Regions from separate parts of the Homo sapiens genome. Here all the other regions are reported to be linked to region 1. Evidence: microRNA targets listed by miRTarBase, many of them from high-throughput screens and not tested one by one. Region 1 holds a microRNA gene; each other region holds the end of a gene's coding sequence. Distances are between the middles of the regions.
The links. Region 1 holds the annotated microRNA hsa-miR-935 (CCAGUUACCGCUUCCGCUACCGC, at 4,316-4,338, opposite strand). A microRNA usually pairs through its seed, bases 2 to 8, with sites in the 3' UTR of a target mRNA and lowers its output. Matches are read on the target gene's strand: a 7mer-m8 pairs with bases 2 to 8, a 7mer-A1 pairs with bases 2 to 7 and ends in A, and an 8mer does both.

Region 1 (5,199 bases):
GTGGCGCGATCTCAGCTCACTGCAACCTCTGCCTCCTGGGTTCAAGTGATCCTTCTTTCTCAGCCTCCCAAGTAGCTGGGACTACAGGCACACCAGCACACCCAGCTACTTTATTTATTTATTGGTAGAGATGAAGTTTCACCATGTTGACCAGGCTGGTCTCGAACTCCTGACCTCAAGTGATCCACCAGCCTCGGCCTCCCAAAGTGCTGGGATTACAGGCATGAGCCACTGCGCCCGGCCTTCAGCTTAATTTTTAAAGCACTTTTTGGTTACTGAAATGATATTATTTATTGTTTATCTCTCCAGTGTGTTTCAGGAGAGCAGGCCCTTGTCCGTCTATTTGCCACCACATCCCCTGGCCGAGATTGGGTCTAGAACAGGTTGGCACTCAATAAATATTTCTTGAATACTGGGAAAACAACACACCAGAAATGGAGCATTCCTTGACGCTGCGCTTGCTTCTGAGTCTCCACGTTGCTTTTTGTGCGAATCTCTGAGTCTGTCTCCGGCTTACCTCTCCCTCTCTATCTCTGTCTCTGTGTGTGTTTCTGCTATCTCTGGGACTTCTCTGATTTGTGCACCTGTCAGTCTCTCCTCTTCCTCTTCTCTCTCCTCTGTATCACCTTCCTGTCTTTGACTTTTTCTCTGTCTGTGACTCTACTAGTTTGGTCTCTCCTGCTCTCCCCCTCCCTCCCCATCTTGCTCTTCCTCCTGCCTACCCTCAACCTCATTCTTTCTCTCTCTCTCTCTCTCTCTCTCGTTCTGTTTGGCCTTCAGACTCTAGAATCCATTCTCCCCTAACCAGTTCCCTCTCCCTCTTCCAGCAAATATTTGCTGTCTCTCAATTTTTTTTTTTTTTTTGAGACAGAGTCTCGCTCTTTCGCCCAGGCTGGAGCGCAGTGGTGCCATCACGGGTCACTGCAGCCTCACCCTCCCAGGCCCAAGCGAGATCCTTTCACCTCAGCCTCCTGAGTAGCCGGGACTACAGGCGTGCACCACCACACCCGGCTAATTTTTGTATTTTTGGTAGAGACAAGATTTCAATATGTTGGCTGGTCTGGAACTCCTGAGCTCAATCTGCCTGCCTCAGTCTCCCAAAGTGCTGGGATTAGGAGCCACAGCACCCGGCCAGATTTGTCTCTTTTAACACCCGCTCCGGCATCCCTCTTCTCTCCACGTATCCGTCTCTCTCACTCAGCGCTTCTCCGTCTCACTGATTTGTATTCCTTTTCCTACATTTCCCAGCATCTCTTCCTGAAACCGCCTTGGCAGAATTCTTCCTAGGGACCTTCAGTCTCTCTCTTCCTGGTCCTTCCACACAGGCCTCGGAGAGAAATTCTGAACACCCAGCTCTGATCTGTACCCTTCCGTCAAGAGAAGGGCACGCAGAGCCCCTGGCAGCATGGCACCACCGCTGCCACGTCCTCCTCAAGCTGCGTCTGTGCCTGTTTTCCCGCCAGACTGGGAGCCCCTTGAGAGCAGGGCAAGATCAAAATCACCTCTCCACTCCCAGCACCGCCCAGCACAAGGCTTCGGGGGAGGCCTCAGGAAACACTTGCTGAGCAAATATGGAAGGGAAGCCTACTGGGCGCTGTCCCCTCTGCCTTCTCAGTGAACTTCAAACCCATCCCCTCCAATCACCGCACAGCCCTTGCCCCCGCGCAGCTGTCATCCTCTCTCACCATCCTTAGAAGAGCCTCAGTCCCTCTGCCTGGAACTCAGGCACCTTTTTCTCTTTTTTTCTGAGACAGGATCTCAGTCTGTTGCTCAGGCTGGAGTGTAGTGCCGCGATCCTAGCTCACTGCAGCCTCGAACTCTTGGAGTCAAATGGTCCTCCTCCCTCAGCCTCCTGAGTAGCTGTGTCCACAGGTGTGCTCCACCACGCCCGGCTAATTTTTTTTAATGTTTTGTAGAGACAGGGTTTCGCCATGTTATCCAGGCTGGTCTCAAACTCCTGGGCTCAAGTGATACTCCAGCCTCAGCCTCCCAAAGCGCTGGGATTACAGGCATGAGCCACCGCGCCCGGCCACCCTGGTACCTTTACACTCTAGCTTGTGGCTACTTTCCCGGCCTCATCTCCCAGCCCCACCTTGTACATCAGCATCCCAGAACTGTTAGCACTGACCCCAATACATCATGCTCGTTCACTTCCTCCCGTTTTCACCCAAGTTGTTCTTTGGCCCCACAAGCCTTTCTCATGCCTTTCATCAACCAGAAGATGCCCACTCATTTCTTCAAGACCCAGAATGGGCATCATATTCTCCAGGAAGCCTACCCCAAGTGCTGCTCACTCCTGGCAGTTGGTCACTCTGTCCACCGTGTGCCACGGTACCCACGGTGGTCCGGGTTCCAGCACCGATTGCCCTGCCTGGATGGCGGTGTTTGATGACAATAAACTGCTTGAGAGCAGGGCTAGAGTCTGTTTCACCCCTGGGGATCTGGATCCTAACACACTTCCTGGTACCTTAGCAGATGGCCAAAAATGGCAATGGGTGAGTGGCTGAATGAACGAGTGACAGACACATGAGTCTCTAAGCCCCACGGCTTTCTCCTGCACACCAGACACCATGACTATGCTTCAGCATCTGTGTAATTACGTGCTTCCTCCCACAAGAGTGTGAGCTCCAAGGGCCCGTGCCCATGTTTGATGCTGTATTTCAGCACATCTCTGCCTCCTACTCTTGCCTCCGAGTTCCTGTCTTCCCTTTGTACACCATTCACGTTAGCGTCCTGCTTAAACCCGTTCCACGGCCCTCACCACTCCTAGAATAAAATCTGAACTCCTGACCTACGAGCCCCTGCACAATCTGGCCCTGTCTGTGTCTCCGGCCTCACCTTGATCCCCGCTCACCTGCCTCACTACCCTTCAGCCCTCGCTGCAAGCTCCTTCCTGCCCCGGGGCCTTTGCACGTGCTGCTCTGCCTGCCACACTCCTGCCCCAGCTCCGCCCTGCTGGCTTCTTCTCATCCTTTCACTGTCCACTGAAATCTCTTCCTCACAACTGGGTTAGGCTCCCCTGATGGAGCATTTCATAGCATCTCGTTTCTCCTATAGCCTAACTGTAATTTATTGTGTATGTACATGATCGATTAATGCCTGTCTCATGCACAAGATGTTTACTCTATGAGACGTCGGGGCCCCTGGCTGTTTTCCTGCCTCCTGCACGCTGAGCACGGAGCACAATGCCTAGCTTTTTAAGGCGCACAAATAAATTGCCGGTAATGAATGAATGAATGAGAAGGCCCTTTCTGTGCCTCGTTCGTGTCCCCTGCTCCAATGCCTTCTTATGTACCAGTGCCTGGTACACAGTAGGTGCTTAATAAGCCCTTGTGGAATAATGAATGAAAAAAATGAATGAATGCCCGCGTCCAACCCTTCTTTCTGCCTTTCTGCATCCCTTCGCTGTGTCTCTTTATATAGGGCATATATATAGTTTGTGGGTGTAACTATGTATTCGTGTATTATGGGCCCCTCTCCAGGAGTTGGGCTGGGCTGGGAGTCCCTCCCTCCCCTCCCCCCGCCCCGCCCCCCATGCACACAGCAAAACATGAAAAAGAAAACATCTCGAAACTGCAAAAAACACCATGGCCCTCCCCCCTCCCCATAGATCCCCCAAAAAAATAAAACACGACGCTCCCTCACAGCGGCCCCCTCCCTCCCCTGCCCCCTCCCTCGGGGTCCCTGCTTCGGAGGGGGAGGGGGGCGGGGAGGGTGGGCGTGGGGCGGGCCCAGCAGTCTCCAGCGCGCTCACGGGGGAAAGCGGGGGCGCCCCCGACCCCGGCAGCCTCGATGCACGCGCGCCCGCGCACGCGCCCCGGACACGCCCCTCGGCTCCCCCGCCGCGCCCCTACACAGGCGTGGTTTTCCTGTTGAGCGTGTTGGTGTTGGAGGCGGCGGCCTCCTTGGCCAGGGTCCCGGGGGCGGGCGCAGAGGGCGCGGGTGGCGCGGGCGCGGGCGGGGCGGGCGGCCCGGTGACCGTGACCGTGACGCCGCCGCCCGCCTCCTTGGGGAAGGCGTTGTGCAGCGTGAGGAAGCCGGACGCCCCCCCGCGGTCCCGCTCGGCACCCGCCCCGCCGCCGCCTCCGCCGCCGCCCCCGGCGCCCCCGGCCGCGCCGCCGAACGCCCCCACGGCGCCGCCGCCGCCGCCGCCGGCCCCCGCCAGCCCCGCGGCCACGCTGCCCTTGGAGGGGTCGCGGCTGAGCGTGTACATGGAGATGTCCGTGGAGGCAAAGCCCGGGCCCCCGGGGCCGCCGGGAGACGCGTCCCGCGACGGCGACGGCTCGCTGGAGCGGGAGCTAGAGCGGGAGCGGCGGCGGTAGCGGAAGCGGTAACTGGGCAGACGGAGGATGGCCGAGGGGCCGCTCCCGCCACTGCCGCCCGCGCCCCCGCCGGCCTTGAGCAGGTCCGAGCGAGACTGGCAGTGCGCCTCGCGGCTGCGCTCGATGTAGATGTTGACGGCCAGCACGCCTATCACCTCGGCCAGGATGAACGACAGCCCGCCGAAGTAGAAGGACCAGCCGTACGAGTAGTGGTTTTTCTTCTCCTCGTCCCGCTTCGGGCCCGGCTCGCCCGCGTTGGCGGAGATGTACACGATCACGCCGATGATGTTGCTCAGGCCTGGGCGGGGACGGTCAGACGGGAGCCTCGAGGCCACCCCCGGCCCCGCCCCCGCCCCCGGCCCCGACCCCTGCCCGCCTGCGCCAGCGGGCCCAGGCGCCACCCCCAGGCGGTCTAGGCCCCACCCCGAGTGGTCTAGACCCCCGTCCTGGATCTGGCTGACCCAAGTCCTGCCAGAAGTGAACACAACTCCCCGCCCGATGCTCTAGGCGCTTCCCTGCTGGTCTAAGCTCCAACCCAGAGGGCTCCGGCCCACTCTTAGCTGGCCCAGGCCTCACCTCTGCTGGTCTAATCCAACCCCGGCTGGTCGAAACTCCATCCCCCAGGTGGTGTAGGGCCGCCAATGGTCCAGACTGCATCATGCGTGGTCCTGGCCCAGGCAGGCTCAAGCACCCCCTCAGATGGTCTAAATTCCACCCCCAGGTGGTCCAGGCCCTGCCCTGAATGGTCCAGACACGGCCCTGGATGGTCCAGGTCCTGCCCCCAGATAGCCCACGGCCCACCTCTGCCGGTCTAACCCAGCCCTGGCTGGTCTAAACTCTGCCCCAGGTGGTCTAGGACCCACCCCCAGATGGTCTG
Region 2 (5,199 bases), not on the chromosome of region 1:
GGTCTTCGGGCCCCTCATCATGGGCATCGGCATCTTCCTCTTCATCTGCGCAAACGCGGTCCTCCACGAGAACCGGGACAAGAAGACCAAAATCATCAACCTGCGGGACCTCTACTCCACCGTCATCGACGTGCACAGCCTCCGCGCCAAAGACCTGGCGGCCGCCGCGGCCGCCGCCGCGGCCGCCGCCGCCTCTTCGTCGTCGTCTGCCCCCGCCGCGGCGCCCCCCGGGGCCATACCGCTCAACGGCTTCCTCAGCTACGTGCAGTCGCGGGGCCTGGAGCTGAAGCCCGGGGGCTGCGGTGGCTCCGGGGACGCCTTCGGAGCGGCGGCGATGCTGGCCAAGGGCTCGTGGCCTCCTCACCCCGCGGCGCCGAGCGGCGGCCGCCCTCGGGGCGCCGCGTCCCCGCCGGACCTGGCCTCTTCCCCGCGCTGTCCGCGGGAGCCCCCGAGCCTGGCCGAGGCCGTGTACAGCGTCTACCGCGAGCGCTCGGGCGTGGCAGGCAGTCGCCGGGCCGCCGCTGCCACCGCCGCCGCAGCCGCTAGCAGCTGCAGCAGTCCGGCGCCCTGCAGCCCACCCGAGAGCTGGGGGCGCCAGAGCACGGCCAGCTCCTTCGTGGACTCCTCGCTGAGCGCCTTCGCGCTGCTGCCCTTGCAAGGGGGCCGCGATAGGGGCGGGGACGCGGAGGGCGCGAGCTGCAGCTGGCAGAGGCCTCCGGGGGAACGCGGCTCCCAGGAGATCCCGAGGGGCGAGCTCGACCTGAGCATGACCAACCTCCGCGGCGCAGAGGGCAGCATGCGCGGGGCGCGCCGGGAGCCGGAGGAGCCCGAGGGCGCGGTAGCGGCGCGCGCCGCCAGGGGGCAGGGCGGCCGCCTGCCCAGGACCGGCAGGTACGCGGCCTTGCGGCGCCGCAGCACCAGCGGGCTCCCGGACTACCGGGCGCCGCCGTCCCCCGAGCCCCCGCCCTCCCCGGGGAGTGCGGACCCGGACTCCAGCCCTCTGGCCAAGGCCGCCTCCCCCTCGCCACCCCTGCGGCTGGAGGGCTCGCCCCCCACCAGGCGGGACTCCGGGAGCTCCCAGTCGGATGACCCATCCAGCAGCAATAAGGGCTACACACCCCTGCGGGAGGCCGGCACCTCCACCGAGTCGGTCTTGGACGCAGTAGCTGGTCAAACGCGAGACTCTGCTGTGGCCGCCCCCGTTCTGGGTGCGGAGCAGAGCTCGCCGGAGGGTGCCAGCCAGGAGCCACCCACGGCCGAGCAACCTCAGCCGGTGCAGAGGCAGTTTACAAACAAGGAGAAACTCATCATGATTTCCAGGTCTCATGCCATAGGGGTAGAAGAAGAACTGGAAAGCACAGGCATTTAGAGAAAGGGGTGGGTTGGGGAGGAGGAAAGAGAAAATGGGAGAAACGCCCACTTGAATCAGTGCATTAACAGGTCCCTGTTTCTTTTGTGGACTGATCCGAGGACATCATTCAATATCCAAAGAGCTGCAGAATGTTATCCTTGAATTGCGTCCACAAGATTCCTGTAGATAACTCCAAGGATTTTTTTTTTTAAGCAAACTAGTCTTTTTATGTCCGATGGTGATTGTATGTTCAATGAAAACCAAATGTATTAAAAGGTCAGCAATCTAGTCCATTAGATAAAATCTTTTAATTTTCTTAGGATCAAAATAATATATTTTTGACAGTAACTGTGCACTTTACTCCGACTTTTTTTTTTAATCCCTCATTTCCCGACCCCTGTACTCTGCGCTGGTTTTGCCCACAGCTGCTTGCGAATGGCAGGCTTTTTTCTCCATTCCTTTGCGGAACATAGAAGAGTTTGTCTCAGTTCTCTTAGAATTGATGTTACTAACTGAAGTCAAAGCCAAAAGCATGAATAATTCAGGAACGAGCACTTTCCTTGCCCCACCCCACTGTGCTCACCCAATGCCCAAAAGCTTCTTCATTTTTAAACGGGTGTGTACGTTTTGCTACTAGGCTATGTGGTGGAGACTGGAGGGGACCAGGAACTAGATGGACTGTTACATTCCGAAATTTATATCAAGTACACCATGCTTTATTGAGTGTTATCACACCTGTATTGAAAATAGCATTAATATTTAAAATCTTTTTTAATAAAAGAAGTTTCCGAACAAACAGTTAAACATAATATTGCCTCATTTGCCTTGGAGCTAGCTCATCTGGTACCTCTGAAATATTTTGCTGTGACACTGCTACCAGGACTGTTGTGATCTTCCCCCAAAGTACTCAGCACCATTGTCGCATGTCCAGCGTATTTTTAAGCTTAAAATGTAGGGTAGTATTTAACATTTGGGAATTTCTCTTTCAAATAGAATGAAACGTTAAGTAAATAGTAATATGCCTATGATACTTCTCATTTACCTGCAAGTATTAATTTGCAGAGCACCAGGCTTAATATTCTCTTCCCATCCTCTTGGCTATCACTGATTATAAGTTAATGGTCTTGATCCATGGCCTACATAGACAAAAAGATAATGTTTTAATAATTTGGTAGATTGTTTACACTTGATGTCATTAAAAGTGAATTAGTTAATTTTCAAGACCAGGAGACAAGATGTCTTCATTTTGGTCTCCTTGGGCAAAGCGCTAGTCCTGTAGACAGAGTGCAGATTCCGAGCTGAGATTGGACCCAGCTGTTGGCATCTCCTAGCTGTGAGGCCTTGTACAAGTCACAAACTCTGAGTCTCAGTCATCTTTCTGTAAAATGAAGAGAACCAGACATATCTCATGGAGCTATGAGAGGAATAGAACAGGGTCAGGGTCAGAGGAGGGTTTATATGTGTGGAGTTTACCAGAACCCTTGGCCCACAGGATGTATTCAATAGATGGGGGTTATTGTAATTATTATTACCATTGTAATATATTGCTGAATGCATAGTGTAGAAGAATGGACCTTCCTTGAACTTGAGCTCAAGAAAGTCTAGTCTGAAATCTGGGATATCCACCTATTATCTGTATAACCTTAGACAAATCACTTAATCCCTCTGGGCCTCTGGTAGATGATATAATCTCTATGATCTTCAGCTCTAAAAGCCTTACTTAAATTCAGGCTCTTGTCCTGGATGTAATCATATCACATTTGTACCTACAACTTGGCAAAGAGTGAATATACGTCGTCAATTACCATTAGCTCAACATTCTGTAATACACTTTAAAAGGGCCTAATTTATTCTCAGATTGGATCTGCATTAAACCGGTAACTCACTTTAAGGCTGTAGATTAATATATTGGGCTCTTCTATAAAGCAAAAGTGAGTTTGCACTAAGGAGTGACATGCAAGTGTAATAAGACCTCAAGGTAGTGTTAAATTTCAACAGTCTCAATTGCTTTATCACACTTCCAAAGTAAATGTCAAACTTCCTTAGGTTTTCTTCTCCATTACCTTGGGTACTGGGTAATTTATATACTGAGATAGCGTGTTACTTCAAGGGGAAAACAGGTTCTGGTGTTCTACAATACTGTTTCCAGTCCTCGGAGAATGCACTGTAAATGTTACATTTATCAAATGCTAAGTGACATTTAGCAAATAATAAAGCTAATACCTCTTAGCTTAACTAAGGAGGGGTGGACAGAATACTGTTTATATCTCACAAACTTAGTTCCATATCAGATAATATCTAACTTAACCATTGAACAATTTAACTAGATTTTTTTTCTGAAGATAGACAAAGATGAGCTCAATTTTCCAAATCTTGGGAGGAGCCTGTGATTTCTTTAGACTTCAGAGGAAGTGTATAAGTGTAGTAATTCACAATCGTAACTTTCATAGGAGCAGAAATCTGCAATAATGCTAATTTTCACTCAGTACTTACTGTGGGTTCAGTACTATTGTAGGAGCTTGGTACACATGATCTCAGTGAATCCTCACAGCAACTCTATTGAAGTAGGATCATTCTTACCGCTGTTTTGCAGAGAAAGACACTGAGGTCAGAAAGATGGAATTGTTGTCCAGGGTTACACAGCTGGTAAATGGTGGATCCAGGATTTACACAGAGTTTGGAAGATTAGGTAGACCTGTCGGCAGATGCTGAGTTGAAATGGGCATTTCTGGAGACCATCAAAATACTTTATATATTCTTTATTTCCTGCCAGATCCCTTTCCAGACCATTCTTAGAGAAATGCAGAAAATTGTCAGAATGCACAGTCAGATAAAAAGCTGGAGTTCGTAAATCTTCAGACGGGCATGAACAAGTTTTTTTGTAAGTGACTTTTCAGGGGTTTTTGTACACAATAAATAAGAGTATTTGAAAGGGCCTTATAGATGATAGAATCCCCCCACCTTTAATTTATAAATGAGGTTTCTAAGATTTAGAAAGATGGAACAATTTATTCTGAGACAAACAGCAGTGGCAGGACTCGAATGTTAAATTAAAATAATTGCAACAATTGGTGTGATGGTATTTTTTCCCTGAATTTCTGTCATGTACCAGCTGGGTGACCATGGACAAGTTACATAGTCTCTCTGTGTCTCAATTTCCTTTTCCACACTATAGGAATAATAATGTCCCTATCTTACAGGACTGGAGTAAAGATTAAATGAACTAATATTTGTGTAAAGTGCTTATAATGGGCTTGGAACATAGAGAGTATTATACAAAGGTTTGTTCCTTTTATTTAAAATAGAATCAACTGCTAAACAATTACTTCATATGACCTTCCTTTTTATTAATAGAATAATTTTAGGCTTAAAAATCTAAAGTATAAGGCAACATAGCATAGTGGCTCAAAGTGTGACTTAGGGGGTTATATAACATTATAACTGGGTCTTCACATCTAGTAAATGGAGATAATAAATGGAATTTGGCACATAGAATTAATTATTTAAATGAGGACTAAATAAACTAATATAATTAAAGGACTTAGAACAACTCCTGGCACATAAAAATATTCAGTAAATGTTAACTACTATTATTAAGGCAAAATACAGAAAAGCAATTAGTAGGCTAAATTTACTACTCAGTAGTTAGGGACAACCATAAACTTAATGTACTAAAAAGTCTTTAAAATTTAGGTATATCAGAAAGAAAAGTTAGACCTTAAAACATGAGGGCTTATGCTGCTGCAATGCCTCCTGGTAGAACATAGAACTATCAAGAGCTAGACATATGCTCCTTATGGTCCCAGGATCATAATATTATATAACAATGAATGAACGCCCAAACTGGC
Region 3 (5,199 bases), not on the chromosome of region 1:
GTCAAACAATACATATATTTGATTTTTATGTGGTATTAAAAGATGTTAAATAACATGGAAAAAGAATTGTAACAATGTTAAATTTTAAAAGTTACATTTAAAATTATATTTTGAAATATACATAGTTATATTTATTCTAAGATAATTATTTCAACCATGCACAAAAAGAACTGAGGCAAACTAAGGTGATATTTTAACAATTTCTTCTGATGATAGAATTATAGCTCTTTTTCTCATTCTTTATGTTTGTTCAGAATGTGTATATTCTTTATATTTGTACAGAATTGTTCTGTAATGATCAAATATTACTATTATAAACAGATAAAAAATTATAGATATTTAAAAAATTGATAGAAAATATGCGGCAAAGATAAAATGTCTTTTTAAGATAAATTTCCTTTTTCTTAAATGGATCATTAGACTCAAGTATAAAATATGTATGCCTAGATATTAATCTCATATATAGAAAAAATAAATTGTAATCCTTGAGTAATCTAAATTGGTTGTCAAGTTTCATTTGGTAACTGTTATTCAACATTAGTCTCTTTCTTAAGTTTTCTCACTCTTTGTGTTTTGACATCTTTCAGGAGCAATACCGTTTCTGCTATGATGTAGCTTTGGAGTACCTGGAATCATCTTAGTTGGGTGAGACTCTTTAAAGTGCATCCATGAAGAAACCTGTCCATCTATTGAGCCAGCAGCTGTTGTACCTGTTACACTTGTGCAGAAAGATTTTAATGTGGGGGGTGGGAGACTTTTACATTTGAGAGGTAAAAGTATTTTTTTTATGAAGTTGTGTATCTTAATAAAAAGGACTGAATTAGTTTTTATTACTATATTAAAGCATCAACATTTCATGCCACATAAATTATATTTAATAAGAACCAGATTGAAATGAGAACGTATTGGTGTTTGTACAGTGAACATGCCACCTTTTTTCTCATGGTTTCAGTAGAGCAGCTACCACATGTTGCATGAGTTCATACTTTCTACGTGGCATTTTTCTCCCTTTCTAAAATGAAAGCTGATGAATCTTAAAAGGAAGAAGAAAAGAAAAGCTGTGCAAATTCATAGTAAAGTTCGTTTTTTATATGTTTCCAGTGTAGCAGATCTCTATATAAATATATAAATATATATAACTGGCTTATTTTCTTTTAATGTGCAATGATGGCTGGATCATTTAAAGTTCTTTTTAGAAAATAACATAAGCCAAAGACTCAAGTGTAAATATGTCTATATGGAGAAAGCACATTATATTTATTGGTTACTTACATTCCTTTTTTGATGGCTAAAATACTACCACCACACAATCATCTTTTTTTTCCTGAAGAAAGCTTTTTCTTTAGCTAAAATCAATTGTAAACGATTTTTGTAGATTATTTTTTGTATGTTTTAGTGTAAGTAGAAGATAAACTTTTTATTCATAAACCAGGAAGCAATGTTCTTTATAGTGATTCTCTTGTGTACATGCTTGTGAATTAAATTTGTGTAAAATCCCTTGGCAATTGGGTCTTTTAATATAGGACCAAATTAAAACATTTTGCTGAATATGTATAGTTTTTCACAATTTCATTAGGTAAATAATGGTTTGGTGATCATACATGAGAAATGTACACATTAAAAGGCCTTGCTGACAACTTGCACAATGTTGAACATAGCCTTTAAGCATCATTTAAATTTTAAAGGAATGGAGTTTTTCAGCCTGTGGCCCAGCACTGGTCAAGAAAACAAGATGGCAACATATATGCTTTCAGGGTCAAATTTGAGCAAACTGTAAACTGTCAGGGTGATAAAATGTTTCTCTTGATGTTTACATGCACAAGCTTTGCGTTCTGACTATAAAAAGTGTGAACAAATCAATGCCAGATTCCTGTTTTGCGCATTGTCATGGGATTCTTAAGTGAACCTTTCTAAATGTGGTCTTGTTCACATGCTCCACGTAGCTGTAACTTCACATCATCAGCTTGCAGTTTGTAATTGACTAAAGCATTCCAGTGTCCTCTTTCTAGATTGCCAGCTCATGACATGGTGCTTATAAAGATTTAATTAAAGTAAGAATGAAATAAAGTTTTTATAATTATAACAGTTATTGTTTGCACATCATTTTTTCCTCTTAATGTTTATGCATTCACCACTAAATGAGTAGCTTATTCCTATACTCGTTGATACAAGTAGGCCACAAAAACTCTATTTAAAGAGTAAAACTGATTTCCAACCTCTAGTTTCTTTTATTTTTATTTTCTTAATTTAATGCCAAAATGTCCAGTAGGTGGAGATGGAAAAGGCCAGGAGATTGACATCATTTTTTGTTTGTTGGTTTCTATATTTATCCATGTATGTAATACACATTTTCCATTTGTGTTTGTCACTATCCATTTATATAATACACATCTTACTTTTTTCTTATAACCAACATGACAAATGGTACTTATGATCCCTATTTTACAGATGATGAAATGGAAGCTAATGAGAAGGTACATGATTTGTCAACAGATTCATTCCTACTTAGCAGCTATGTCTTTACCACTAAACACATTGTTTCCCAAATGTCACAAAGATAGACAAAAAAATTTAGAATTTCATTTCTATTGTTCCTCATTAATCAATTTTCTCTTAAAGTATTATTATCATAATGGACATCTTCAATCTCCCATTTGCTATGTACTTTATTAGAAAATGCGTGACTTTTTAAAAAATTCAGATAAAGCAAACTTTTCTTAGGAAAGCTGATTTTCATTTAAACATGGAGGCATTTAACAAAAAAAAATCCACAAACTCGCCCAAGATTTTTTTTACCCGGTAATGTTTATTATGTTATCCTATAGAAGATTCTGTTTCACTGTGTGACACTGACTTCATTTCTGCTCATGACTGCACCACACACCAGCAAAGTTATCATGAGCACAACTGTCCACAAAGCTCAGAGGTCTGTGCAGCCTCTGTAATTCAAAGAACAAGAGTTCTCTTTCTTTGTAACAGGAAATTGAAATATCATGCTTGCTTTGTTTGGGCACCACAGAAGCCACTTGATCAGGAGACAATGGAAGAGGGGTTGCCTGTTGCTCTCAAAACTCATATTCAAAAGCTCATATCTTATACCCTTAAGGGCTCCCTAAGTAGTCTTGTGCATGACTATGTTCTCCGACACCCCCAGCCATGTCCCTCTGGGCGGATGTCCTGGTGCTGGCTGGGGGTGGGGTCCTCTTCCACTGGCACAGCTCTACATGCTTTTCATAGTTTAGGGCTTCCTATTCCTAATTTAGTTATTCCTTAAATGGCTGTCATGTCGTTGAATTTTACAGACCCCCTTTCTATAACTATCACTAAGGAGATGTTGGAAGTGTGTGGGCCAGAGACACACCAGCAACTGGGAATTTTTGAGTTTTAAAACCATTCTTGGAAATAAGTGTTATCTCTCTTAGAGTTGTCTCCTAGCCTTTTCTAATACTTAGGCTTTGGAGTCTGTATTAGTCAGGATTCTCTAGAGAGACAGAACTAATAGGATAAATATATAAAGGAGTTTATTAAGTGTTAACTTACATGATCACAAGGTCCCACAATAGGCTGTCTGCAAGCTTGAGGAGGAGGAGAGCCAGTCTGAGTTTCAAAATGGAAGAACTTGGAGTCAGATGTTCAAGGGCAGGAAGCATCCAGCACAGGCGAAAGATGTAGGCAGGGAGATTAGGCCAGTCTTGCCTTTTCACGTTTTTCTGCCTGCTTTATATTTGCTGGCAGCTGATTAGATTGTCCCCACCAGATTAAGGGTGGATCTGCCTTCCCCAGCCCACTGACTCAAATGTTAACCTCTTTTGGCAACACATAGACACACCCAGGATTAATACTTTGTATCCTTCAATCCAATCAAGTTGACACTCAGTATTAACCATCAGTCTTTAGATAAAGGTGTTGCTGTGTTGCAGCCAAATGATCTCTGACATTGAAAGATAAACAAAAGGGGAGATATTTTTTGCCTGGACATGGAGAGGCTGCATGTTTATCTCCACACTGATGTGCTGATGTGCTCATTCAGTATTCATATTACCACAAGAATCTCTTGAGTTCCAGGCATTCATGTCGTAAACTTGGAAGTCAGACACCAAAGGCTGCTCCTTCTCATATCTACTCTCCTTCCAGAAAATGGTGTAAGGCAAGAGGTTCTTAGCACCTGAACTTAATAGATACCAGTAAATACTAAAATGCAGAAGAGCAGGGGCTGATTGTAGCTCAACTGAAAATATGAGGTGGGCAGTCTACTAGCTTTGGAAGACCACCTTTGAGATTTGCCTTTTTTTTTTTTTTTGAGATGGAGTTTCGCTTTTGTCGCCCAGGCTGGAGTGCAATGGTGCGATCTTGGCTCACTGCAACCTCCACCTCCCAGGTTCAGGCGATTCTCCTGCCCCAGCCTCCCAAGTAGCTGGGATTACAGGCACCTGCCACCGCGTCCCACTAATTTTTGTATTTTTAGCAGAGACGGGGGTTTGCCATGTTGGCCAGGCTGGTCTTGAACTCCTGACATCAGGGGATCCACCCGTCTTGGCCTCCCAAAGTGCTGGGATTACAGGTGTGAGCCACCATGCCCAGAGATTTGCCTAACTTTCATAGGGGAGTGACAATTCAGCATTTATATTTAATTTCTGTGCACTTTGGCAAGCATTCTTTTTAATAACAAAATAGCCAGAAATCAATAATCCATCACATACCCTGGGTATAATATGTAATATTTACCTTATAAAATGTTTCCATAGGCAGAGACTCCACATCCTTCCTAGACTTATTTCAGTGTTTTAGTAAACACCCCTACTTAGTGTAGAGTCTATGTGCCATTTCATTCAACACTGAGTGAAGCTAGAAGGCGGCTGGCTGTGCCTCCCTTAATCATTTCTACTTACATATTATTTCATAGCCTCACAGCTTAGGGAGGTTTGGAGTAGAAGAGATACCTGAATTTGTTCACAACTCCAGTCTGTTCAAGCAGTCTGCAGAGTATTCGAGTATTATTATATCTCTCTGAAACTAAAAGGAAAGGCTACTTTAAGTAGCTATAAGTGGCTTTTTGGAATATAAATTGGCCAAAAATCAATGGAAATGTGGTAGATATATATGACACTTCTGAACTTCCAGCTTCCTCCAAAGTGAATTGAAATGCTAGCTAACCTGGAAGATAACGAACAACACAGAGACCCTGTTGTTATCAAATCC
Region 4 (5,199 bases), 51 Mb from region 1:
CAGGAGAGGGGGCGGAGACTTGTGGCCCTCGCTTTGTGGCTGACTCTGGTTCTAGAAGTATCCAGCTGGTCTCGGCCCTCACCGTGATCCTCCAGCTTCTCCCTGTTCCGGGCAGGGGTCTCAGGAGTCTGGCTGGTTGTCTTCTCCTGGAGGAGGAGCATGGGGTGGGGGCTACAGCGTGAACCCTGCCATGTGTCCGCCCCAGGAACCAACATGCCTGCAACCTTCGGCCATCTGGCAGGTGGCTACGACGCCCAGTACTACGGGTACCTGTGGAGCGAGGTGTATTCCATGGACATGTTCCACACGCGCTTCAAGCAGGAGGGTGTCCTGAACAGCAAGGTACGCGGGGACTGGGGACAGGGAGGGCGTCCTGAACGGCAAGGTACGCGGGGACTGGGGACAGGGAGGGCGTCCTGAATGGCAAGGTACGCGGGGACTGGGGACAGGGAGGGCGTCCTGAACGGCAAGGTACGCGGGGACTGGGGACAGGGAGGGCGTCCTCAACAGCAGGGTGGGGCCGAGAAAAGCACACCTTTGGCCTGGGCCTGGGTGTGCCGGGTGAGCCATCCCGGCCGAGGCACCTGCTGGTCTTGGTGCGGTGCTGCCCACAGCTCCTCCCTGGGCCCTGCAGGAAGCTCCACACTGGCCCCTCAGGCCTCGGGCTGTGAGTGCTGGGAGCTCCGTGTCTTCCCATACGAGTCCTTCCGGGATCTGCGTGATCGGCCTCAGAGCCATGGGCTGAGACAGACCCTTCTCTGGAGAAGGCTTGGCGTTTGCCATTCATTTGCTCCTCCAACCTCCAGTTTCCTCACTATGAAGTGCGGCCGTTACGCCATGTGAGCCTGTGCCTCCCGCTGACTTGGTGTGACCCAGGCTCGGGACAGCCGCCAGAGTCCCTCACAAGGAACAGGTGGCTACCAGCTTTGAGGGCCGGCCCTGCCCTGCCTGGGTGCAACATTGCACTGGGCAGCCTGCAGGTACCTCGGAGCCACCAAGCAGGCACTCAGCTGCTCCCTTTATAGAGGTGCAGAGGCCAGGACCTGGGGGAGCAATGGTCCGACAAGCCCCCTGTCTTCACAGCCCAGCAGGGACCTCCCCCCTCCTGAGGCAGCCTCCAGCAGCTCCCCCTGCTGCTGAGGTGAGGGGGTCCCACCTCTGAGGACCGGCCGGGGGCTGTAGAGGTGGAGTCCCCCGGGTGGGAGCTGGGACTGTGGCTCCCTGGCTCTGCAGCCTGCAGTCCGCGCAGGCTCCTGCGGGGCTCTGGGGCGTCGGGGTCTCCTTGGTGGCTGGCACCGGCGCCTCGCAGTCTCATCTGCCTCACCTGCCCGTAGTCCCGCAGTCACAGGGCTGGGCTCAAACCTGGGCCTTTAGGGCGGCCCAGAGCGCGAGCGGCTTCCACATTGTCCAGCCGGAGGCTCAGCCACTTCTGTTCATGGGCTCAGCCTGGGATTTCAGTGGGGGCTGATGGCGGGAGCCACCTCGGGAGTTTGGGGAGTTCGGGGCTCTGCTGGCCCCTCAGTGCACACCCCCGCTCTGAGATTCTGATGAAAGGCACCTGCGCTCTCCCACCTGTGCTGATGCAGGCGGCCCCCGGGCCTCCCTGGGAACCTGGAAGGGGTTGCTCCGAGGCCCCCCTGGGCGAGGGTGTGCAGACTCCTGGGGTCCTCTGCCTTCCTCCCTGGGTCCCCACCCGGCCACAGTGCCCTGTCTCCTCGGCAGGTTGGCATGGATTACAGAAGCTGCATCCTGAGACCCGGCGGTTCCGAGGATGCCAGCGCCATGCTGAGGCGCTTCCTGGGCCGTGACCCCAAGCAGGACGCCTTCCTCCTGAGCAAGGGGCTGCAGGTCGGGGGCTGCGAGCCCGAGCCGCAGGTCTGCTGAGGCCTGGCACTGCGACTGCCCAGTCTGGCCTGCGCTCCCGCCGCCCTGGTGCCTTAGCCCCCGGCACAGGATGGGGCAGGCTCTGGCACAGTGCCTGGGACTGGCAGGGTGGCTGAGCGGCTGTCTTGCCTCTTGTCATTGTCTGTCCCCACCCGGTCGTGGCCCACCCGGCTAGAGACGGCGTCCTCAAGGCATCTGGAGGGCTTTCGTGGCTGCCAGGGCCTGGTCTTTGTTGCACTAACACGTCTCCTCTCTGGGAAACGTCCCTTGTCAGGAGACGGCTCTTCTTTGAAATGAGGTCATTAAAAGGAAACAGAAAAAGAGAGAGGCTCCCTGGCCTGGTCACTGGCTCCTGCGCTTTTTTGGTCCGAGGACGGTGGGACGGCGGGTCAGGGTCCAGCCCTCGGGCTGTTGCCACACCAGGCCCTGGATTGGGGCTCAGGTCCTTGTGGGGGCGGGGGGTGGGGGAGTAAAGGGCTGGGAACCAGTTCTGCCAGCCAGGCCGGCCTGGGGGGTCTGAGAGACTTCGGCTTCCTGCATGCTTCTCACCTGTTGTCATTCTGGAACATTCCCCCCGCCCTGCTCAGCTCTGGCCATCAAGGACCAGGCTCCACTGGTCAGAGAGTCTGGAAAGTCAGGGCAGGCCCTGTGCGCACAGGCAGCCGGGGCGGGGCTGGGGGTCAGCAGCTGCCCACCCTCTCATCCACAGGGGAAGGCCGGGCTCACTCCAGCTTCCTAGGCAGAGTCTCTGGGGGTTCCTGTTGGACACAAGTGAACCAGGTGAACCAGGGCAGCTGCTGGAAGCTCGGCCATGGCCCTCATCCTCATGGCCTTGGGGACTGCCTGTGCCTGCCCTCCCTGGCGGCCCCACTCCCCTGGCTGTGGGCAACATGGCAAAGTCTTGATCGGGGGTGCAGGGTCGGGGGGGCGCTTCCTGGACCCTCCAACAGTGCTCAGAGATGCCTCAGGGATAGCTGTCGGCTGTGTCCCCACCTCCCGAGCAAGACAAGTGGATGCTCCCCGTCTCTTCAGTCCCAGTGCTCTGATGTTTTCTCCCGCGACTGTGAGTTTCTCAGGAGCCCCCCTCGTGCCCTGGGAGCGTCCCTCCCCAGTCTTAGTCCTCCACGAAGGACGCTGGTCAGCAGAACCTGTGACCCTGCTTCCCGAGGCCTATGGGTGGCCAGACATCCGCCTCGTCCTCACCTCCATTTGGACAGGACTCCGAGGGCTGTGCCATCTGCTTCAGCCCCTCCTGTCCCATTCCCACCCAGCCCAGGTCAGTGTGGCTGTGGCCACTGCCATGGGGCCTGCTTTGCACCTTACGCACGCCTGGCTCTGCTCCATGCACCTGCTTCTGTGTCTTTCCAACTCTGGGGGCTAAGGGGTGAGTCTTGTCTTTGCAGAGCTGGACGGCACAGCCTGTGGCCAGGAGGGTTATGCCAGCGAGGCGGGAATCCATAAGTGGGAACACCACAGTGGTCACGTTTCAGATACTCACAGCTCAGAGCGGGTCCCATAGCTTGCACCTGAAGCCCCAACTACTCAGGAGGCTGAGGCGGAAGGATTGCTTGAGCCCAGGAGGGCAAGGCCAGCCTGGGCAACGTGGCAAGACCCCATCTCTAAAAAAAATAAGTTCGGTGGGTGTGGGGCCAGTGCCTGTGGTCTGTTTTTTGGGAGGCTGAGGCAGGAGGATCGCTTGAGCCTAGGAGGTCAAGGCTGCAGTAAGCCGTGATCCCACCACTGCACTGCAGCCTGGGCAACAGAGCAAGACTGTCTCTAAAATAACAATAATAATAAAATACCTGGGGTTCAGAAAAGAAAAGCTGGAAGGCAAAGCCGACCGCACTGGGCAGAGGTGGAGATGGCAAGTCTGGGGGCTCCCTCATCTTCCCCTGCCCCGAGCCCTCAGGTGGCCTCCACCTGGTCCCCAGCGAAGTCCCAGTTGTGCAAGAGCACCCCAGCTGGGCCCTGGGCCATCACAGCCTTGTCACACACACAGCCTGGCCCATCACAGCAGAGCTGGGGTCACAGCCTTGGGCTGCTGGGCCGTGGGCGGATGGCCTGGACCATCCACACCCCACTCCCCTGGAAGTCACCAACTGGGCTTAGTTGCCGGATACCCCAGGCAGCCCCCCGCGGTGCTTCGCAAGTTGGGCCGCCTCCCCCAGCATGTCCCCTGCTCTGTGGACACCCAGGGATGTGGAGGTAGTAGCACAGAGTCTCGGTCCAGGGCCCTGTTCCCCAGGGAGCTGGGCGTCCTCAGAGCCTTCCCAAATGCCCACACCGGGGGCACCCGGGTTTCCCCAAACACTCCAGGACAGAGCGGGGGCTTTGATCACAGGGAGGGGGCTGCAGAGCTGCTGTGTCTCCTGGCTCCTCTGCCCCATGCTCCCCACTCAGGGCTCCAGCAGTGGGCTCAGAGGACAGTGTGGCATTAGCATCCCCTGCCCGTCCAGGTTGTCACTCTCCTTGGCCCCTTGCTGCTCCCCAGTGGAAAAAAAAGGGGGAAATAAAGAATCGTAAAAAATACATATATTGGAACCTGTATGTTTTGTGATCTTCGCAACATTTCTCTGTAAACTCTCCTTCTTTAGGTTTTTGACAAAACCTGAATGCAGAAGTGGTCTCCTCCCCAGTCACCCGTCCAGCCCCCGTGGGCTGTCCCCAGGTGTCCCTGGCTCTTCATCCCCACAATCCTGTCCCTGCCTGTGCTGCCTCCAACACACGCGCCCCAGGCTTTGTGCCTGTGGTTCCATTTTGGTCCTTCACGAAGTATTTCTCCAACCGAGAAGCTGCTGGGATCTCTGTGGTTGGTGGCCCCGAGCGGCCCCACTCCTCTCAAGGATGATACCAGTGGGGCCGTTGTAGGCAGGCTCCATGCTGCGGGCTGGGCAGGCGCGGTCGTCCCCATCCTCCCCATGGGACTTGTGTTACTGTCCCCGTGTCCCAGATGGGGCATCTCAGGAGCAGAGCCAGCGTCCCCCCTCCTCTCCCCAATGAGCAACACCGGCTGAAGGCCACAGCCTTGAAAGGGACAGGGGCCTCACTCTCCAGGGCTGTCCCTACTTCAAGGGACAAAATGTTTTGTGAAACTCAGTTCGATTCTGAGATTAATGGCCAGCTTGCGGGTGGTTTGAGCCCTGGGCTGGAAGGCAGGAGGTCTGGGTTCAAGTCTCCAGGTAGACAGGGCCCAGGGATGAGTTCCAGCATGGGCTAGGGGCCAGGGTGCTGCCCACGTGGCTCCCTGGGGAACTGGGCTCCCTGTGGCCATGCAGAGAGCTTTCTGGCTTTTCCAGGCTGCACCAGACCGGTGTG
Region 5 (5,199 bases), not on the chromosome of region 1:
ATATGGGTTGGAGACTTCCATAGAAGGCAATACAAAATGTGCATGGGGGGGCATGGCTCATGCCTGTAATCCCAGCACTTTGGGAGGCTGAGGTAGGTGGATCACTTGAGGCCAGGAGTTCAAGACCAGCCTGGGCAACATAGTGAGACCCCATCTCTACTAAAAATACAAAAATTAGCTGGGTGTGGTGGTGGGCACCTGTAATCCCAGCTACTTGGAAGGCTGAGGCACAAGAATTGCTTGAACCTGGAAGGTGTAGGTTGCAGTGAGCCGAGATCATGCCACTGCACTCCAGCCTGAGCAACAGAGCGGACTCCTTCTCAAAAAAAAAAAAAAATGTGCACAGGGGTTTGGGAACAGTGGGCAGAACCTGCCAATGAGGAACAGTAGGAAGCTTGATGGTGTCTCTGGATGACTGAAACAGGTGTTCCCTCCGGCACTTGTCAGGGAAAGCTCAGAGGTCTTAGCAACTGGCTTCTGTTTGGACTCACTAGGCACTCTTATTGCAGGATCAAAGAGGTGACTTTATAGAGAGGCATAAGATAAGAGAGGGACAACTACATGCTAATTGTATGTATACTACAGATGGAGGTTTCTCTACCTCTACCTTTGTCCTTTAAAACTGATCTCCAGCTAAACAGGTTTCTTGTAGTAGAACATAGCAACCAGGAAGCACATTAGCACCTCAACAGCTTTATGTCACAACTGTGGTTATGATCAGAGAAGACATGATCATAAATTCTCCCTATCATTCCCATACTCCATCTAGGATACAATGGCTGTTTGGTTCCAGCCATGAGGCTGCATGCAACCTGCCTGACACTGCTCGACCTGGTCTATCTTCTGCATGAACCCATATATGAGAGCCTGTTGAGGGCTTCAATTGAGAACTCCACTCCCAGTCAGCTGCAAGGGTAAGACAACTCCTATAGGGTAGGCTCCTTCCAGGAACAGGGAAGGGGAGACAGACCACAAGAACTTGGGGAATGGAATTAGCCTAGCATGGCATCCAGTCCCAGATAACCTACTCAGGCTACCTGGTTCTCATTAGTTCCAATATGTTGTTTGGATGCAGGTGACTGAGCCTGGTCAGGAAAACCCTAAAGGCTTTTACTTTTAAATTTAAATTACTTTAATTAATATATTTCCTTTCCTAGTTTTTCCTTTATAGCTGCATAAAACTCAAGGTTACTGGACTGCTTTGGTCAGTCATTTAGAAAAAAAAACAGTCGCCGGCGCGGTGGCTCATGCCTGTAATACCAGCACTTCAGGAGGCTGAGGCGGGCAGATCACGAGGTCAGGAGATCGAGACCATCCTGGCTAACAGCGTGAAACCACGTTTCCACTAAAAATACAAAAAATTAGCCGGGCGTGGTGGCGGGCACCTGTAGTCCCAGCTACTTGGGAGGCTGAGGCAGGAGAATGGCGTGAACCCAGGAGGCGGAGCTTGCAGTGAGCTGAGATGGCGCCACTGCACTCCAGCCTGGGCAACAGAGAGAGACTCCGTCTCAGAAAAAGAAAAAAGAAAAAAAAAACAGTCACAAGGTTGCAACTTGGACAAGAGTGTTTGATTACTGTAAAGTCAGACTGGTTAAAAGCCTCACAGTTACAATTGTTAGGGAAACAGATAGAACTAAAAAAGGCCTATAAACCATTCAAGACATAAGGCTCATGTTAATCCCAGTTAAGTTGGGGGAGAATGGGAGAGCAGGTCAATGAGCTATTACTTGACCATTTCCTTCCATGTCTAAAAAATCCAAGATGATCGACACAAATAATTCATAGTTGAAGTTCCATGACCCTATGATTTGGAAGATCAAGTTCCATTCTAGCTTTAAAATTAATGTGGTTTTAATCACTCAGGGAAAAGTTTACTTCAGTGAAGGAAGACTTCATGCTGTTGGCAGTAGGAATCATTGCAGCAAGTGCTTTCATCCAAAACCATGAGTGTTGGAGCCAGGTATGCACCACTGAGCAGGACCAGCATGGTGAGAATTCATTTAACAGAAAGCATTTCACCCATCAGTTAAAGGAAAACAGAGGACAACCTACAGAAGTGCCAAGACCCAGGATTAGGATGGGTGTGCAAGATTTGAGAGGGAAAAATCTAGGATAGGGCTGAAATGTTTCCTTGTTTTCCTTTTATAAAACTGGAAATGGAGGCCCAAGTTCGGCTTGTTCATTTCCCTTTATAACGATAACCTGCTATTATGTTAAACTCCAGGCTGGGCACGGTGGCTCATGCCTGTAATCCCAGGATTTTGGGAGGCCAAGGCAGGAGAACTGTTTGAGCCCAGGAGTTCAAGACCAGCCTGGTCAACACAGCAAGACCTTGTCTCTACAAAAATTAAAAATTAGTCATGGCTGGGCGCAGTGGCTCACACCTGTAATCCCAGCACTTTAGGAGGCCGAGGTGGGTGGACTGCCTGAGCTCAGGAGTTGGAGACCAGCCTGGGCAACATGGAAAAGACCTGTCTCTACCAAAAATTTTAAAAAATTAGCTGGGTGTGGTGGCACATGCCTGTGGTCCCAGCTACCCAGGAGGCCAAGGTAGAAGGATCCCTTGAGCCTGGGAGGTAGAGGTTGCAGTGAGCCAAGATTTCACCACTGTACTCCAACCTGGGAGACAGAGTGAGACCCCATCTCATTAAAAAAAAAAAAAAAAAAAAAAAATTAGCCGGGCATGGTGGTGCATGTCTGCAGTCCCACAACTATGTGGACTACTTGGCTGAGATGGGAGGATCACTTGAGCCCAGGAGTTGGAGGCTGCAGTGAGCCATGATTGCGCCACTGTACTCTAGCCTGGGCGACAGAGTGAAACCCTGTCTCAAACAAACAAACAAAACAACAACAACAACAAAGGCCAGGCAGGGTTGCTCACGCCTGTAACTCCAGCATTTTGGGAGGCCAAGGCAGGAGGATTGCTTGAGCCCAGGAGTTGGAGACAAGCCTGGGCAACACAGTGAGACCTCATTTCTACAAAAAATAAACAAAAGTAGCTGGACATAGTGGCTTGCGCCTGTAGTCCCAGCTACTCCAGAGGCTGAAGTGGGAGGATCACTTAAGCCCAGGAGGTGGAGGCTGCAGTGAGCCAAAAATCACACCACTGCATTGCAGCCTGGCAGCCTGGGCAACAGAGTGAGACCCTGTTTCAAAACAAAACAAAGTCCAACAATTATATCTTCTCAAATAATGAAAATGTCAAGGCCCAAATATCATTCTTATATTTCACAAAACTTATCTCCAGCAGAGGGAAATGTCTACCAGAAAGTTTCCATGCTAACATTATCAGGGCAAAGGTATCCTAATATAATTTGGCCATTGGCAAACACTGGAATCTGGATTTCAGAAAAATGAATTTACAATTGCCTTGAGAGAACATCCCAAGTAATGTGTGTGTTTGTGCACTAAAATGTGTTGAGATTTTTTAGTAATAAGAAATCTGTCTCTATTTCTGAAGGTTGTGGGGCATTTGCAGAGCATCACTGGTATTGCCTTGGCAAGCATTGCTGAGTTCTCTTATGCAATCCTGACTCACGGAGTGGGAGCCAACACTCCGGGGAGACAGCAGTCTATTCCTCCCCACCTGGCAGCCAGAGCTCTGAAGACTGTTGCTTCCTCTAACACATGAGGGAGGCTGAATCCACCAAATATAAACAGCCATCCGTCACTGCACTCATGCCTCCCTCTGTTTACTTTCATACTAAGGGTACAAAAATTCCAAGTCTCTTTTGAACTGTATTTTGTATGCCAATTTCATGCTTATTTTTCCTTTATCAGAGAGAGTTAAGGTGGACGAGCATGCCCTTTTTGTCATATCAGCCTGAAAATGTTAAAAAGCTAGGTGGAGACAGATTAGTTGTTTCATTTTTGTTTAACAAGGTATTTATACTTTTAGCTTAATTTCATTAAGAGGAACATCAGGCATTGCAATCAGTATTAATCAGGGGCTCAAATACAGACTATCTGGGTGACCTTGACTAAGCATCAAGGAGGTAGCCTTTATTTCCCCTTAAAATTAGTTTAACATCTCTGTTCCATTATTCAGATCTACACAAACAAGGCTTCCTCAACAGCTATCTATTTTTACTAGAGTCTTTTTTTAAAACTAAAACTAACTCTAAAGAAGTTTCAACAGAATTTCCACATACCTGCATTCATTAGAACTTGATTCTCCCAGAATACAAAGTACTCTATTTTAAAGAAAAACCCAACAGTGCACCCCTGGGCAGTTTTCAGACTGCAGCAAATCTTTTATTACAAATAATTAAATCTCTCCATAATGTCTCAAACAGTATCAAACACCATTTCATATCTCTAACACAGAGCAGAGTCGGCATTCAGTATAAGAACCAAGTGAAAAGTGTTAAATTTCAAGCATCTGATCACATCACATGGTGACCAGGTAAAGCTTAGATGTCATTTTCCCACATTATCCAACTGTGCATCTCAAACATATCCTCATCTCAGTAAAGACAAAAGTTTCTATTTCATATTGTTAAGTGCAGGAAGTTGAGAGAGATAAAAATCCAGTGAAAACACATCAATCTCAATTCAACTCAGTTAAAAAAAAGAAAAGCAAATTTAAATTAGTTTTTTTCAGAGAAGAAAGGGAAAGGAGTCCATGGGGTTAAGAATCAAAACTGACCAGGGCTGGCAACTATAGATGGCATGTTGTAGCTCTGGAAAGTATCTGTCACATGATATTTTAAAATAAAGTGGCTTTTGTGGATTTTTTCTTTTTTGGTATTGTAAACATGTACTGTTTAATATTACCCGAATTTAATTTAAAACATGTTTGCAAACAAAACAAAATTAAAAGCCTTTAAGGCAAACCTCCCCCTAAGGAAAAAAGTCATTTGTTATAAAATTGTGAGGACACCCAAGCAAGACCCCACTTAAGATTCGTCAGCATGAACTTGAGAGCTTTTGTCCACTGCTCCTCAGAGTTAAACTGGGTTTTGATGGAATAGGAGCCGCCACTGCCTCCTGTGTCTTCAATCTTGCCTTTCTCCACATCCATCCTGCAGATGGACAGAGCAAAACTCATTAGTAACTGAGATCTGAGTTAAGTAAGTTCGGGGCAGGGACTTGATCATGGGACCATTCACGTCATTTTATCTATTAAAGAACACTTGGTGAGGAATGATAGTGTATTTTGGATTTGCTTGAAAGCCAAAAATCAAGAAGACTGTCACA
Region 6 (5,199 bases), not on the chromosome of region 1:
AAGCTTTCTATATGTTAAGAATAGAAACCTTTGTGAAATTTTTTGCAAATTCCTGAGTTTGATATGCCTTTTGATTTTATTTTACATGTGTGTAACATTTTAAATGTTACGCATATGTAACAATCTTTTCTTCTGTAAATTACCCAATTACTTTTCTAAATAGAATTTCTTGCCCAACTTACGGTAGATATATATTTTCCTACTAAGACATATCCTTAGATGATATATTTTATTATTCTAGTTTCTTTTGTTTGCATTTAACTTTTTGGCCCATGTGAGATGAGGCTTTAACTAGAGTTTTTACAGAATACCCAATTTTTCTAATACCTTCTCTTGGCCTTTAAAGAAATGTTATTACAAGCAATTGTACTGAAATAAGCAGCATGCAAAGACATAGCTCGGTGTTCACTGTGAACTTTGCTTTCTCCTCCCAGGTGAGCAGGAGCCAGCTGTAAGCAGTGATTCTGACATTTCCTTGATCATGGCAATGGAGGTTGGACTGTCTGATGTAGAACTTTCCACTGACCAGGACTGTGAAGAAGTGAAATCTTGAAACGACAAATCCAGAAGCAAAGAGATAGTAGGACCCAAGGGAAAGGAAGGGAAGAGTGCTCCAAGACTTGGACCAGGCACACACACACCTCCAGATCACCTTGGCAACTCCAGGGCGCTCCGTTCAAGAATGCTGACGAAAAGCAATATCCAAAGTCTTGTCAATCAGGATGCAGTTTCTCCATCGGTATGGCAGTCTGTGGCCTTGGCAGCTGGGAAGTTGAAAGCTGATTTCCACTCCTATGTCCATGTAGACATACACTTCAGAAGCTCCTAAAACAGAGACTGAAAGGCCACCTTTAGGATTTCTTAGTTTCATTTCAATTCTTTCCATGTCTCATCATTCTTGTTTTTGGCATGTTGTTTGATTTCTTTGGCAATTTTTTTAAAGATTATTTGTAGTTTACTTTCCATCTATTCCTTTGTTTTTCCTTTGATGCACTCCAGCTTTTGTATAGGTTTCTGTTTAGAAGCACCAGTTCCTGCTATGATCAGTTTGTATTCCATCTCTGAGATATGTGGTCTTGACCTCCCAGCATGAAGTGTGCATGGCTTTGAGAAGTGCCTCAGCACCCTGAAATGGACTAAGGCCAGCTTTCATTAAGAATCTAAGTTCTTCTAAGTGGGCCTTTAAAAACCCCAGCTGCCAGAGACCCCAACACTAAGCCCTAAATCTGCTGAGGCCACTGCTGGTTATTTTAAGCCACATCACACTTGCTTCCACTTGCCGGGCTTGATTAAGGGCCCACGTGACATGAGAAGGGAGCTCTAGGGAAGCCGTTTCATTCTTCTGGGTCTTACAGTCTTTGGCTGAAATTCTGAACTCAGAAGTCCCCTCCAAGGCATCCAGTCTTTGGTGGTTGTAGGGCTGGTTTTAAAACCAGATACCACATTTTCTTCCTATTGAAAACAAAATGCCAGTTGCATTGGTTTCCCCTGGGCTAGAACAGTTTTTTTCTTACCTCTGTAAGTGGGTTCTGTAAAAAATGGAGGCTTTAGAGAAAAGCCAATCATTTTTAAGTCCAATGGCAAACATAGTGGGGGCTGCAGTAGCACCTAGCTTTTACCTTAATTTCGACACACTTCTGTTGAATCTCACCAGACCATGTGGGAGGATTTAGGTGAATCCCTAGCAGATTGCTTCCCAGGGCTCCCTGAGTGTGTCCAGATACCAAGTGAGGAATGAGGTGTGATTTGCTGTATCATTTGAACCAAAAAGTATGCAGCATGAGAATTTGCTAGATCGTTTATCCTGACTGAAATAGACAAAGTAAGAGGGAAAGGAAAAGAGGTATCAAGTAAATACTGAAACCCAATGGTGTTTTTAAACTGTTTCTGTTTTTATTCATCTTTTGTAACTATGACAGAAATGTGCTATTTTTTCAGTGGGCAATTTTGTAATATATTCAGACTATCCAGATACAGAGATGACTAAGGTCATTGATAGCGTCTCTGAACAATCAGACGGATCACCTTATCTCTACACAGCTGGCAAACACCAGGCTGCGGCTTGGATTAACCAGGAAAGAAAGCTTTTCTCACTGAGTTGTTTTTATGTATTGATGGGGACTTTTCCACCTCATTAGACTAATACTCATTCAAAAAGAGTTTGGTTCTGCTGTAAATCCTTGCCGCCTGCTGAAACATGGTGTGCAGGTCAACGGAGAATACTAGCTGCTCCTTTTTCACCACCTTTACCAATTTCCTATTTGATGGTTTGTAAGTAGACAGTAAGGCAAGGCAGATGATTATTACCCTCAGAAAGGTTGCATCTCCCTAGGAGTCCAATGCTTCCTGTAATGAAATCCACTCTCTATGTGTGGGAAAAGAGGCAGGGAGGAATGAAGAGAGCTCTGAATCGAGAATCCTAGATGAACCACACGCTTTACTAAGCCTCGGCTTCTTCATCTATAATGTGAAGGGTTTAATAACATGAGTCCCCAAGCTCCTCTGGCTGTGGGACCACAGATGAGTCTTTCAGAGGCAGGATCCATTTTTGCAGATAGCTATGACTTGTGGCAATCAGGCTTCGTAGCTTGGGGAGGTAGAGTTACTTGACATGTATCATGTAATAACAGCCTTTGAGACTTGGCACAACTATGGTGCTGAGAATGAAAATCTAAATGATTGAAGTTTTAAGTCCAAGTAGGAGTTGGTTTGTTTTGCCTTGTTTAAAAATTGCTGTTAGTCACAGAGTTTGCAATCTCTGGATACCTTCAAATCCTAGCTCTCACTGTGGGATTCTTGATCTCAGAGGTGTTTATTTTTCACAGTCAGCATAGGCTTGCGCCACTGACTCCTCCTTCAGTCGGCTTTGCCCAAAACAAATTTTAGTATTACTGGTATTAAGTTTAGTCCAGTGGAATTAGAAGGATAATTCAATAGCAACAGAAATATAAATTATATTCCATTCCCAGAGAGAGAATGCGCTTTGGATTGTTTAGTCCTCTGATTAACGAGTATTTTCTCTTCCTGCCAAGAACTAGGTGAATCAGGAATTGATTGCATATGCAAGCCCTGGCCACAGCTGCACTTACAGGATGCCTCATAGACGATGAGGGGTCTGAAAGGCCAACCCGAGGCTGGCAGATCTGACCCCAAGGAGGTCCTGCTGCAAACCCCCTGAGCCTTTGCCATTCACTACTTACCAAAGTTTGTTTCTGGAGGATTTTCCTGTAGCTTTGATAGTTTAAAAAAAAAAAAAAAAAGAAAAAAAAAAAGCTTAACCAGAAAGTTTCTCTTTCAGAAGAAAGGGGAACAGCCCTTCCTTATAGCCTTCTTTACCTCCCCCAAAGAAGAGACTGACCTGGAGACCTGGTAGTCTACAGATGAGTGTCAGAGGGTGTGTGTACCCTCTAGAAGCAAATGCAGACTGTATGTGTATTTGCAGATGTGCATTTTTCTATAGCAAGAGTCTAGACTAGCACTGTCCAACAGAAACGTAATGCAAGTCACAGACATAATTTTAAATTTTCTACTAGCCACATTTTAAAGTGTAAAAAGAAACAGGTAAAGATAATTTTAATCATGTACTTTAACCTAATATTGTTTCAACATGTCACTAATGTAAATTAATGACATGTTTTACATGCTTTTGTGTACTAAGTCTTCTAAATCCATTGTGTCTTTTACACTCACAGCACCTCTCAATTTGGATAGTCACATGTGGCTAGTGGCTGCCAATTGGACAATGCAGGTCTAGAGTTCCTCCAGTATTCTCACAAGATCCCCCGACCCTTACAAAAGAAAAGAAGGTTAAAAGCTTAATTACCTCCAGGGAGAACTGGACACCACCCAAGTCGCCTAATGAGAGGCCCAGAGGTCCATTTATTTTGTAGTGAATAAAGATTCAGGCACCCTTTTTAAAATTTCTGCTTGAACTTTCTAACCATATCATTGATGTCCATGACCATTTGTTGTTACTCCTCTGACCAGTTGTTACTTAAAACTCACACAAACCATGCTGATTTGGTGCTGAAACAAAATTATACCCCTCACTTCTATGGCAAACCCTCGGACTGATATGTGGCACTTAGGAGCCAAAGAGAACTCCAGACTGAAATCACCCAACTTTACCTCAACCCCTTCTTCTTGTTCATGGTTGGTGAAAGTCCTTTCCCAGTGTCCCCCAGTCCCACAGCTGTAGTGAAAACTCACGAACTTGGGAGGAAAGAATGAGAAATGCAAGACTTTATGTGGCCTTCTTGAAAAAGAATCTTTGGGGGCCTGTGATCATCCGGTCTCTACTTGGTGAATTATGACCACCTCCAACAGCCAGCATTTTACTCCAAGTCAGCATCCACCTGCCACCCCAATGCTATGGGGAAGAAAAGGAGCATTTGCATTCACTCAAAATAATTTAGGGTCACCTTTAGGAACTGCTACCTCCTATGTGGCTAGTCCCTTTGGAAGAGCTGAGCCCTGACTATGAATACAGCTTTTGAACATTGACTTAATCTCTAGGGTTAGATATCCCCTGCAGTGTCAACTCTGGTCATCTACACAGGGAGAGGTAGAGTCTGGAGAAGGCAGAAAATTAAAAGCGGCAAAGGTACCTACCCATTTTTGACATCACATGGTAATGATCAGAATCATGGAGGCAAAGCTCTGTCCAAAAATGTTCATTTTGTTTTGTTTTGTTTTGTTTTCTTGTTTTTAACATTTCCTTCATCCTGGTGAAATATCCTGGAAATTCATAGATCTGGGTTTGGTCATTTCAAAGCTCACCATGCCCAGTGGCCATTTCAGTTACTGCCCTGACATCCCTGAGGCTACCATACTCTCAAAACCAAATCAATGCCAGTGATCTAACATAGGATTCTTTCTTATTTATGAGTTTTGTTTAGATGGATATTTTTGCAGAGCATAAAAAATTAAATGACATTTAGTTATCCATTGAATGTATCACCCTGACTTAAAAAAAAATCCTTAAATCAAAACTTTTCAAAAAATCTGGGCTATGGAGTCACTCCCTCTGTGGAGCGAGAGCCCAGTCTTTTCTGGTACTAAGGCCACAGAGGCAATTTCCAGTAGCATTTTTATATCTTCTCTAAGTTTCTTTTCCTTTTCTGTCTGTATCTGTTTTTCTCTGACTGCCTATATCTTACTTTGTATACCCATACATAAATTATTTTCCCATCTTCTCTC

Region 2: the mRNA of TMEM200C is a reported target of hsa-miR-935. Seed matches in the 3' UTR shown: 7mer-m8 at 1,696-1,702 and 7mer-A1 at 1,861-1,867.
Region 3: miRTarBase lists PTPRK as a target of hsa-miR-935. The part of its 3' UTR that is shown has no 7-base or 8-base seed match.
Region 4: miRTarBase lists THOP1 as a target of hsa-miR-935. The part of its 3' UTR that is shown has no 7-base or 8-base seed match.
Region 5: the mRNA of BECN1 is a reported target of hsa-miR-935. Seed matches in the 3' UTR shown: 7mer-A1 at 4,560-4,566.
Region 6: the mRNA of RNF150 is a reported target of hsa-miR-935. The part of its 3' UTR that is shown has no 7-base or 8-base seed match.

What each region holds. Positions count from the first base shown.
Region 1 is chr19:53,981,501-53,986,699 of GRCh38, reverse strand. It overlaps MIR935 (microRNA 935), which reads right to left and starts at 4,393; the gene lies at 4,303-4,393. It overlaps CACNG8 (calcium voltage-gated channel auxiliary subunit gamma 8), which reads right to left. Exons shown (of 4, transcript NM_031895.6): 4 at 1-4,620. The coding sequence ends at 3,851.
Region 2 is chr18:5,886,368-5,891,566 of GRCh38, reverse strand. It overlaps TMEM200C (transmembrane protein 200C), which reads left to right. Exons shown (of 2, transcript NM_001395400.1): 2 at 1-5,199. The coding sequence ends at 1,369. It overlaps MIR3976HG (MIR3976 host gene), which reads right to left. Exons shown (of 10, transcript NR_172496.1): 8 at 3,845-4,046; 9 at 2,394-2,487. Among named protein-coding and RNA genes, the nearest start is that of TMEM200C, 6.6 kb to the left of the region's middle. RefSeq lists an enhancer at 1-267 and a silencer at 785-1,004.
Region 3 is chr6:127,965,669-127,970,867 of GRCh38, reverse strand. PTPRK (protein tyrosine phosphatase receptor type K) reads left to right here. Exons shown (of 30, transcript NM_002844.4): 30 at 588-2,083. The coding sequence ends at 641. Among named protein-coding and RNA genes, the nearest start is that of PTPRK-AS1, 60 kb to the left of the region's middle.
Region 4 is chr19:2,811,393-2,816,591 of GRCh38, forward strand. It overlaps THOP1 (thimet oligopeptidase 1), which reads left to right. Exons shown (of 13, transcript NM_003249.5): 12 at 206-342; 13 at 1,723-4,415. The coding sequence ends at 1,884. Among named protein-coding and RNA genes, the nearest start is that of ZNF554, 5.9 kb to the right of the region's middle.
Region 5 is chr17:42,805,905-42,811,103 of GRCh38, forward strand. It overlaps BECN1 (beclin 1), which reads right to left. Exons shown (of 12, transcript NM_001313998.2): 12 at 4,230-5,024. The coding sequence ends at 4,856. It overlaps CNTD1 (cyclin N-terminal domain containing 1), which reads left to right. Exons shown (of 7, transcript NM_173478.3): 5 at 770-914; 6 at 1,864-1,960; 7 at 3,461-5,199. The coding sequence ends at 3,631. Among named protein-coding and RNA genes, the nearest start is that of CNTD1, 9.6 kb to the left of the region's middle.
Region 6 is chr4:140,863,615-140,868,813 of GRCh38, reverse strand. RNF150 (ring finger protein 150) reads left to right here. Exons shown (of 7, transcript NM_020724.2): 7 at 435-5,199. The coding sequence ends at 553. Among named protein-coding and RNA genes, the nearest start is that of TBC1D9, 110 kb to the right of the region's middle.